Homo sapiens: one gene and its partners. The protein of the gene in region 3 purifies or fractionates together with the protein of the main gene of each other region. This does not show direct contact. Each region holds a gene or a part of one and is shown on either strand. Other genes may lie near its edges. The genes, in order: POC5, MARK3 and CERT1.

Region 1 (3,067 bases), 170 kb from region 3:
TATAGTGAATTATTTCCAAACTCTCCAAGGATTACAAAACCCCACTGAATGCTGTTTTCCATAGGGTCTTCCAAAAACATCAATACTCTGTCATTTTAATTTTCCCAGAGACATCTCTCCTGAAGCCCACTCTCTTCCCATTTCAGTATACAGCTGTGACTGTGTGTAGCTAGATGCAGCTATATGGAGAATCACAGATGAACTATAATAATCGGGAAAAGATTGATACTTAATAAATGCCTTTGGAAAAACTGTTTAGAGAAAAAATGAATTTAGATTAATACTTCACACTGGAATTTCAAATGTTTTAATAAGCTAAGCCAAAATAAGTAAATGTTATAAGAATATAACTACCTCAGCTGTCCAAAGCTGGTTTTGGTTTCATCATGGAAGCAAGAGGAAATTAATGACAGGATTAACCACAACTTAAAAAAATGGATGTGCATTGAAAATTAAGACAAATACATGAAATGGGGAAATCGTTTACACTCTGAGATAAGTATCTATAATTATTAAATGAGTTTAGTACTCGTCAGGAACTATTAAATTTAAATATTAATATCCTTTCAATTCTTAGCAAATAAGATGAATAGTTGACAAAATGGAATACAAATATGAAACATTAATAAAGAACCACAACTTGAATAGTAGATTTCACCTCAGACTTAAACAGGCGGCTGTGTAATTGATTGACAGTGGAAAAATAGTCCACTTACGTGTTATTCCTGCTGTAAATATTTTTCTGGAGTATTATCCAGCGATAAGCAGCAAAAGCTATAAAAGCTGATAATACTTTTTGATATGATCGTTCCATTGTTTGCAATATATTTTTATTATACAGAAGTAACTCTCAAAAGAGGATTTTTCTTTTGCAAAATGTGCTAAATGTAATAGAAAAAGAAAGACAAAGTAGTATGTTGGTATAAAAACCATCTCATTAAGAACTATAGCAGGTCTCTGTATTACCTCGTAAAAAAAAGTATATTAATAAAATGAGAAGGAAAAAAGGCAGAACACAGAAGCATATGTGTAATGATAATATTAATTATGCTTAAGGATCAAAGAGTCCATAAAACAGATTAATGGTTTCCAGAGGTTAAGGATGGTTGGGGAAGGAACAGAGAGATGGATATGACTGTCAAGGGTGGCACGAGGGAGATCTTCGTGGTGATGAGTATTCTGTATCTTGATTGAGTGATAGTTAACAGGAACTTAGGTGATAAAATGACAGAGATCTATACACAGGCATTATCTCATGGTGAGCTTCCTGGTTTTGACTTTGTTATATTCTAATTATGTCAGATGTAACCATGGCAGGAAACTGGGTGAAGAGCACACAGTACTTTTCAATATGATCTCTGTGTCTTTCTATAAATCTATCATTTAAAAAAAAAAAGTTGGTTTTTTAAGTTTCTAAAATCTTATAAAATCGTTGGCATACTCAGGTTAAAGGGATATTTTGGGGTGTTCAGTTTTGTTTTGCTTTTCGTCTTGTGATTTTGTTTTTTCCATGTTAAAGTTGGTTGAACATACAGTTATTTTAAGTGCCTGTGTATTCTTCATAATTTATGGAATCAATAGATTTTGCTGTGGATTTTCTGCCACCTTGTTACTTCTTTTATTTTTTTTTCTTCTTAGTATGTGCCAAGAGTTGTAACCTCTGCACAACAGAAAGCAGGAAGAACTATTACAGCCCGGATCACAGGAAGATGTGATTTTGCTTCAAAAAATAGAATTAGCAGCAGTTTAGCTATAATGGGAGTTTCTCCTCCCATGAGCTCAGTTGTTGTGGAAAAACATCATCCAGTCACAGTGGTGAGTCCACATTTGATGACCTTTTGTCAAAAAGTCTTTTTCCTGAGAGTTCATAGACTAGTAAACACTTACATAACATGTTGAGAAGATAAAAATTTATGATGACTGGTACTTGTTCTGCCTTTTCCTGTTACAGTTTTTTTTTTTTTTTTAATATATATACTTGTTTTTCTCAAACCTGCTATAAATCTACGTTTCTGCTGTTGGGAAATTAATTTCAGAAACATCGTTTCTTCCAAACTGTAAAAATTATAAAATACTAAAAGTAATCCAGTGTGTTTGTGGTCAAAAGAGTAAAATATGTAAATGCTTTATTATCAGTTTAAAAAGAGACAAAAATTGTTCACTCACTAGCTGCTCATGTAGCAGATATTTGATTACAAGAAAACTCCCCTACATTTATAGTTTTTAATTTTTGGTCCTTTTTTAAAAAAAGTCTTCCCCTTTTTTCAGTACAATTGTCAGCATGTTTTTAGTTTAACAAAATTCAACTTGCAGTAAATGCATGTGATATAAAGAAGGTGCATTGAATTTGAAGCAAAAATTTTAAAACCCGAGTTAGTGCTTCAGCTTTGCTACTTGTTGGCTTTGTGATATATACAAATCAAGTAAAATATTTGAGCCTCCACTTTCTCTTCTGTAAAATGGGGTTAATAAAAATAGTTAGCTCCTTGGGTTATTGTTAGGATTCAAGATTAAATGAGATAATGTGAAAATTAAACGAGATGTATTAAGGCATTTTATAAACTATAAAACCATAAGCAAATTTAACTTACTGAAAGTTACTAGAAAAAGATACATGAGATATCTCTGAATTATTTCCTACAAATGTGTACGAATCAACAATTATCTCAAAAAGTATAATAAGAGTGATAAGAACATCCCTAAAGAAAAACAAGGATTTATTTATTTATTTATTTATTTATTTTTTATTTATTTTTTTTTTTGAGACAGAGTTTCTCTCTTGTCTCCCAGGCTAGATAGAGTGCAATGGCGCAATGTTGGCGCACTGCAATCTCCGCCCCCTGGGTTCAAACAATTCTCCTGCCTCAGCCTCCCGAGTAGCTGGGATTACAGGCACCCGCCACCACCCCCAGCTGATTTCAGGGACTGATTTTAAAAGAGAATGCCCTCTATAAATTCTCAGCATCGGACAACGTTCCTGTGTACTTTCTAAGTATTAGCAAAAAAAAAGTATATGGAATGATTTTAAATCCTTTTTTCCCGAGTACTAGCTGGGCACTAGATGATT
Region 2 (3,660 bases), on a different chromosome or scaffold from region 3:
AGGTGGCTTAATAAAGGGGCTAAGAAGTGAGTAAGAGGGTAAATAGAAACCTTCTGATGCGTCTGACTTCTAGTTAATGCTAATGGATGTCAGAGATCCTCCCTAATCTAGGCGGAGGTTGAAGTTAGCCAAGATTGCACCACTGCACTCCAGCCTTGGCGACAGTGAGACTCCGTCTCAAAAAAAAAAAAAAAATTAAAAAAAAAAAAAAAAGGAATACTCCCTAATCTATTCCATGTCCTAATAATAAGTAGATCAGACTTTAATGTGACTCACCGAAGTTTCAGATGATCGAATACAAGATTACATTTAGCTTAGTTTAAATAATGGAGATGGAGTGAAATGAAGTAATAGGCTATAGGCCATAGGGAATGCAGAAAAACAGAGGAGGGTACTGATCATTTCAGACTCGGGAAAGACTCCTACTGCTGTCCTGTAAGCTACAGATGACAAATAAGAGGGTCCGTCCTAGGCAAACCTGCAAGATACCACAGACAGACTCATCCACAGCTAGGCTTAATTTCAAAACATTTCTCCAAGGATGTCCTGAAACTGCAGGGGCTCTTGGGTTTCCTGGGCTCCTTCTCGGAAAGGTGCCTTTCACTATTGTTTACGGTTCAAAGTGGTATCCTTTCTTTTTCCTCTTGAAGCAGCCAGTATTTCTGGGCTTTTGTAACAGGTAACAAGGTTACGGAAATGAAGTTAATCTCAAAGGACCCTTGAGAGTTTACTGAGGCCCCAGATGCTAGCCTACTAGACACATGGAACATTTTAAAAAATTTCCAGGACCATCAGCCAAGAATCATGCAGCATTTAATAAAAATAACTTAATAATAGTAACATTATTTTTTGATAATAAACCAGAGATTTTATCTCCAAAACTATACCATTTAAGGACATTACCTTGCTCTCAATATAAATTACTAAGACTGAGAGAGAAACTTTCAAGATTTGGACTCTTAAGAAATTTACTGCTCCTTAACAACAATAAAGTGAGAAAAGAGAAGCTGTCTCTTTCCTCTGGGGCTGGAGATGATTATGAAAGACATGCATGGTCTTTCCTGCTGATTGTTACAGAGTGCCAGCCCCCCACCCCACACCAGAACTCGAGGTCTGCCTGCTCAACAACAACGAACATGCCATGCAGACAGATACGTGAGCAAAAGGAACAATAATTAAAGAACAGTAACAAAAACCTCCTAAATGCTAGTTAACTTTTAGTGTTATGAAGACTCTGAGCTCTACAATTTCTACTTTAAAGGTTTTAAAGTATAAAGTTAGATATATATAAAACCAGAAAACCATGAGCTGAAGGCAGACTGAAAAGCATCCAGGTAGCAGTGGCTTCACACAACAAAAAAGACATCTTTCCTTTTGCTCTATGTGTTCACTCCAAAACAACCAGCACCTAGCACTTACCTCCTTGTGAGTTTTGAAGTTAATTTACTAAAGAGATTAGTGGAGCCTCGGCTTCGAGTCTGGGACAATGGTGTGGCTTCATGGGACAGGCTGGGAGAGGCAGGAGGGCCATTATATGTTGCGGTTCGCCGTTCCCGGGGCTGGCCGTGGAAAGTGCTACGACTGGCAGTGCCTCTTGGGAAGCGGATTCGATCTGGGGTGGCTGCACTACTGATACTGTGTGTTGAAGCAACTGGAGTTCTCTGATCAGGAATAGTGCTATGAGATCAGAAAGTAAGAAGCTCTCAGAACATGATATACAAAAATTTACAGTCACAATATACCTTTTATACACAGTGGAGAAAATCGGGTATAAAAAATCCAGATCCAAGGGGTATTTTATAGGACTTAGGAGCAAAAGGTAAGTTAAGTGGGAAAGGGTACCAAAAGAACAATACATAATGAGACAAAGCCTCATGGAGTTTAAGGGACCAGTATTATATATATTTTCAAGGACAAGATTAATGCAGGGAAATTCTAGGACAGAGAACAGCTAACTCAAACTTTTCCCCTTTGCTTCCCTCTCAAATTGCTTACATAGAGAACTGTGCCAATACGAAAGAAATAAAGGATATGCTGGCGTAACTGAAGAACAGGCAACTAAAAAGTTTTGGAAGTAAACAAATGATATATGTATAAAATTCCACATGCTGAAAGCAACTTGGGAGGAGCAGGAACTTCTTATACATTTTGTAGTACGCGAAGGCACGAAGACACACAATACACAACCGAGGACATCATGACAAAAGATGTGCTTAACTAAAATCACATGGAGGAAGGACGCCTTGTGGACAACTGTAACAAAATCTCAGACTATAAAATCCACAGCACAAAATTAAGAAGCAGTGGGTACACATTAGTTTCACAAAGAATGTGCATTTTTCTTACATAGCCTTGAAGTTATCTCCTTCACTGTCTATTGGAGGTAACATCATCTTGGGGTGCCCAGAGGCTGACATGGACATCGACTTCTGATGTCTCAGCCGACAGGTAGATGTACAAACTGAGGCAGGGCTAGCTGCGTAAGCGAACATTTCTGTCAGGCTGGGAGGGGTTTGGGTTCAGGCAGAGGCAGAAACACAGTATGAAGGAGCAGTGACCACAGAGCAACCTGTGTGTAATGCACACACCTTCCTCCCAAGCCATCTCATTTCTGGTAAAGAATAAAAATCTCCTAAGCTTGTTTTGGAGATTCTGGAGCAACTGCTAACCTATAGTTGCTTTTTTTTTTTTCCAAACAGTAATCATAAAAATCTATTACCTTAAAATAAAATAGCAGATTACATGTTTGAATATCTGTTTCTATGAGAGGGACAATGTCCTCTGAGGGTATGCACAAAATAAAACCTATTCTAAGAGATGCCTCAATTCAAATCTAAGTGGTAAAATGAATATATAATATGAGCATGCTATGCTCTCAACCTGTTCCCAAAACACACTGACATATTTTATTTTTTCTTTATTTATTTTTTTTGTAGAGACAGGGTCTCGCTATATTATCCAGGCTGGTCTTAAATTTGTGGCTTCAAGTGATCCTCCCGCCTTGGCCTTCCAAAGTGTTGGGATTATAAGTGTGAGCCACCACACCCGGCCCGCACTGATGTATTTTAAATGAATTAATAAGATTACAGGTATAGGAACTAGCTGTTATATAACAGTATCCTATGTTGTTTGGTGTTTTTTTGAGACAGGGTTTTGCTGTCACCTAGCTGCAGTGCAGTGGTACGATCATGGCTCAATGCAGCCTCAACTTCCTGGGCTCAGGTGGTTCTCCCACCTCAGCCTCCTAAGTGGCTGGGAATACAGGCGCACTCCACCATGCCTGGCTAATTTTGTATTTTTAGTAGAGAGAGTTTTGTCATGTTGCCCAGGCTGGTCTTGAACTCCTGGGCTCAAACGATACGCCTGCCTTGGCCTCCCAAAGTGTTGGGATTACAGGCATGAGCCACCATGCCCAGCCTTCCAATGTTGTTTTAACAATATAGTCTAGAACCTTCCTAATCAAAGGACATTTACTCCAAGATAAAAAACAGTCAGCAGAGCCCCCTTCTCCAAGATGGGCAAATTCATCAGAGCAAATTAACTGTTAACAGACATGGTAAGATAGAGTGGCTGGAAGTCTGCAGTTTCATCTAACACACACAGTTACCGGACAAAACTACCCCCAGGAGTCTCACTGGGACACATTATTTGGAATTCCAG
Region 3 (3,660 bases):
CTCTGTCACCCAGGCTGGAGTGCAGTTCTGTGGTCTCAGCTCACTGCAACCTCGACCTCCCAGGTTCAAGCAATTCTTCTGCTTCAGCCTCCCAAGTAGCTGGGACTATAGCCACGTGCCATCACGCCCGGCTAATTTTTGTATTTTTAGTAGAAATGGGGTTTCACTGTGTTGGCCAGGCTGGTCTCAAACTCCTGACCTCAAGTGATCCACCCACCTCAGCCTCCCAAAGTGCTGGGATTACAGGCATGAGCCACCGCGCCTGGCCTACTTAGTTTACATTTAACTTAGTATATAGAAACAACTGTTCCTTTTTGCACTCGTAGTCATTAGACATGAATAATGTTTAAGATATGTAAGAACTATAACAAGTAAACTGGCATAAACAGGTTTGGGAACAACCAACTGACTTGTTAAGCATGTAACCCAACTAGTGAGAACAGAAGTACCTGATAATACAAAAAATAGCATACTGGTTAAGAATGGTCAGCATGCCATGGGCCAAAAAAAAAAAAAAAAAAGTGTTGGCTAAGGCCAGACAGTTAAATAGAGGTCAGTTAAGGGAGCTGTTGTAGTTAAAATCTGAAAATGGGTACGTTAAAACAAAAATACAGAGTTTACTAACTCACTCAAAGAGAAGTCACATTTTGTGATAGAATTTATTTGGCTTATAAAAGTGAAAGATATATATATAATACTTCAGATTTCCGTTAATATCTAATCCTTACTTAGCGTATGTTTGTTATGCATTTAGGGAAAATCTTACAGTATTTTTACATTATTTTTTATACATTATTTCCCCCCTTGTATATTCAAAGTTTGAAAACAAAAGTTTAGAATTGAATATCAAGTTAGAGAAACACAGAAGAAATATTTGGAAGTGTTGATAATGAAACTACGCTCTCTATTCTTAGAGACAATTTTTAGGAAATAGCTTTAACATAAAGGCTCAGTATTTATTTTGACTGGTATGTGGTACATTGTAATGTGTTTAGAAATTGTATCTAGTTTAATATTTTGGGTGTTTTTCTTCCGAGATAGATCATTATTCATATCAATGGACAGAATAGTGGATTGAAATGTACCTTGCGATCTTGAAGTGTTTTTCCTTGATCCTCCACTCCCCTTCTTTTGCGTATTATTATTGGATGTTTATTAGTTGCAATGCTTAACTCTTTGAAAATAGTATAATGATTGATGTAAAAATGGGGAGGAATTAAATTTTATCTTTATTATTCTCTAAGTAGTAGTATTCCTAGAGTACCATGCTAGTTTCTGTGGATTTAAATATAGTTATTCTGTCTTGAATTATGGACTATAATAATGTTGCCTGGCTTATTTGGAGAAAAGAAAATTTTAAATTAAACATTTAATTTAAATGTTTAATTTAAATTAAACAAAAAATTTAAATGTTTAATTTAAATTAAACAAAAAATTTAAATTTTAACATTTATATCCATCTTCTCAGGAAGAAAACAGTGTTACTTTATTGTAATTGATTTTTGTTATAGCTATATGTACATGCATAACTTTCATTGTGGTACATAGTAAAAGACATGCGTAGGAACAAGAAACAATTTGAATTCTTTGAAGGAGAGATAAAAGTAGAAGTAAAAAGATGAATTAGGCAACAAAATCTGTGTGGTAGTCTTAGATACAATGAAATGGATGATAGGAAAAAACACAAGCATTTATATTATTGAACTTGAACTTTCCTTGCCCTTTGGGTTCACAGACTCCATGTTACATATTTAAAGGAAATTAAAAATATAACTGAATTCAGTGAACTCAGGATGAGTTTACAAATTAGAGTATGTACTTTAGTTAAATAAATAAATGTAATAGTAATATTCCTCATTAAATTTTAATAGGCATCTCTTGGTATTTTTTTTCCTTAAATATGGGCTATGCCTATTGTCACTTCATGTCAGAATACAAAGAATGTAAATGTTTAATTTCTTTATATGGCACTCTTATGAAATTGATAATATTCACGTACAAAGAAATCTGGGCTTGAAGAGTTGATGTGACTTTACTGTAACCATTCATTACTATATTATTTGTTGGTGGACCTAGCATCTGAACCCACATTTCTTGATAGAGCCTAATCCATTTTAAGTTCATTCTTAGTTTAATGATTAAATCACTCTTAATTTATAAAAACAATATTCTTTATCTGTGTGATAATAAAGTGGGTGAAATAATTTCAAGGAAGAAAGTATGTCTTGAGAGAATTTATTCCTTAATGTGAAAGGATTGACAGTAAGTAGGTGAGAGGAAAAATAGTATTCCCTTACTTTGTGTAAAAAGAGCTATTTGTATGTAGAATAAGTGTTTGTAGAAAGACAGTTGAATTCTTCAGTTATTATAGCTTGATACTTAGAAGACCCAGCCCCTGCTACAAAATTTGCCGCATAGTAGATATTCTGAATATGTTAGTTGTAATTGTTTCAATTAAAAGCAAATGTTTATGGAATATTTACACTGTTTACTTTTTATATTCTATTTTTAAAATAAAGTGCACATGATAAAAAATATAATTTGTGGCATTAAAAAGTTTAAGAAGTACATGCTGCTTTTTAGTCTTGCACTTGAGGGACAACCAAACTTAAATTTCTGGTCATCCTTTCAGAAAATATGTAGGACTATACAAGGATTTGTTTATATCTTTCATAAATATTTACACAAATGGTATCATATTAAGCCTATTGTTCTGCACCTTGTTTTAATACAACTTACACATTAACTGTTATATTCTGTTGAATCGTGTGGATATATTATATTTATTTGCCTGGACCCTGTTTTTGCACATTTAAATCATGCCTAATTTTTATTACAATCATTATTGAAACAAATATGTACTTTAAAATTTGTTTTTAGTTATTGTCAAATACTCCTTCAAGAGTACCACTCCTCACTCCTACCAGTAGTGAATGAGTGCCTCTGTTTCTCCTTACCCGCAAGTATTGAGGAAGTTGGGTTTGGCAAATGTTAAAGTATTTGTCAAACTGCTACATTAAAATGGTATCTTATTATTTTAAATTGCACTTTTTATCCATGAGGTTGAGTAACTTAATAATTTATAGCCCATTTTTATTTCTTTTTCCTTTTCCAATTGCTTATGCACTTTTTTTTTGGTTTTTCTTTCCTTTTTGGCTTGTAGAAACTCTTCATATGGTAATTAACCATTTGGCACATTTGTTGCAAATATTTTCCCCCACATTGTCACTTGTCTGTTTCTTCTTTGCTTGTTTTATAGTCTATATTAGGCCCTAGAGAAATCTTAGATTTTTACATACTCTTATTGACATCTTTTATTACGGCTTCTGTATTTACTTGTTTAGATAGGTGTTTCTCTCTCAAAGACTATCTCTCTATATGAATGTAGATATATTTTCATCTAAAATTTACACTTGAATTTTGATTCCTGTGGAAGTTATTTTAGTTTAAGGAGTGATATTGATGTTTTTAGTTTTTTTTCCACATGACTAATTATGTATCCTGGTAGCATTAATTAAATAACTAACCTTTTTCCAAGTGGTTTCAAACACCACTTTCATCATATATTACGGTCCCATATTTATTTAAGGTTGTTTCTGGACTCTCTTCTGGGCATTTGGCTTGTCCTTCTTATCCTCTGTTTAAAATTATATTGTGGGT

The links.
Region 1: the proteins of CERT1 (region 3) and POC5 purify together in Homo sapiens (co-immunoprecipitation; one large-scale study listed by IntAct). This does not show direct contact.
Region 2: the proteins of CERT1 (region 3) and MARK3 purify together in Homo sapiens (affinity purification with mass spectrometry; 2 studies listed by BioGRID and IntAct, with this or other methods). This does not show direct contact.

The regions. Positions count from the first base shown.
Region 1 is NC_000005.10:75,676,522-75,679,588, reverse strand, and holds part of POC5 (centrosomal protein POC5), read left to right. Parts: intron 1-1,638; coding exon 1,639-1,815; intron 1,816-3,067. UniProt on the Homo sapiens protein: Essential for the assembly of the distal half of centrioles, required for centriole elongation. Acts as a negative regulator of centriole elongation.
Region 2 is NC_000014.9:103,489,794-103,493,453, reverse strand, and holds part of MARK3 (MAP/microtubule affinity-regulating kinase 3), read right to left. Parts: intron 1,678-3,660; coding exon 1,420-1,677; intron 1-1,419. UniProt on the Homo sapiens protein: Serine/threonine-protein kinase. Involved in the specific phosphorylation of microtubule-associated proteins for MAP2 and MAP4. Phosphorylates the microtubule-associated protein MAPT/TAU. Phosphorylates CDC25C on 'Ser-216'.
Region 3 is NC_000005.10:75,501,613-75,505,272, reverse strand, and holds part of CERT1 (ceramide transfer protein), read left to right. Parts: intron 1-3,660. UniProt on the Homo sapiens protein: Shelters ceramides and diacylglycerol lipids inside its START domain and mediates the intracellular trafficking of ceramides and diacylglycerol lipids in a non-vesicular manner.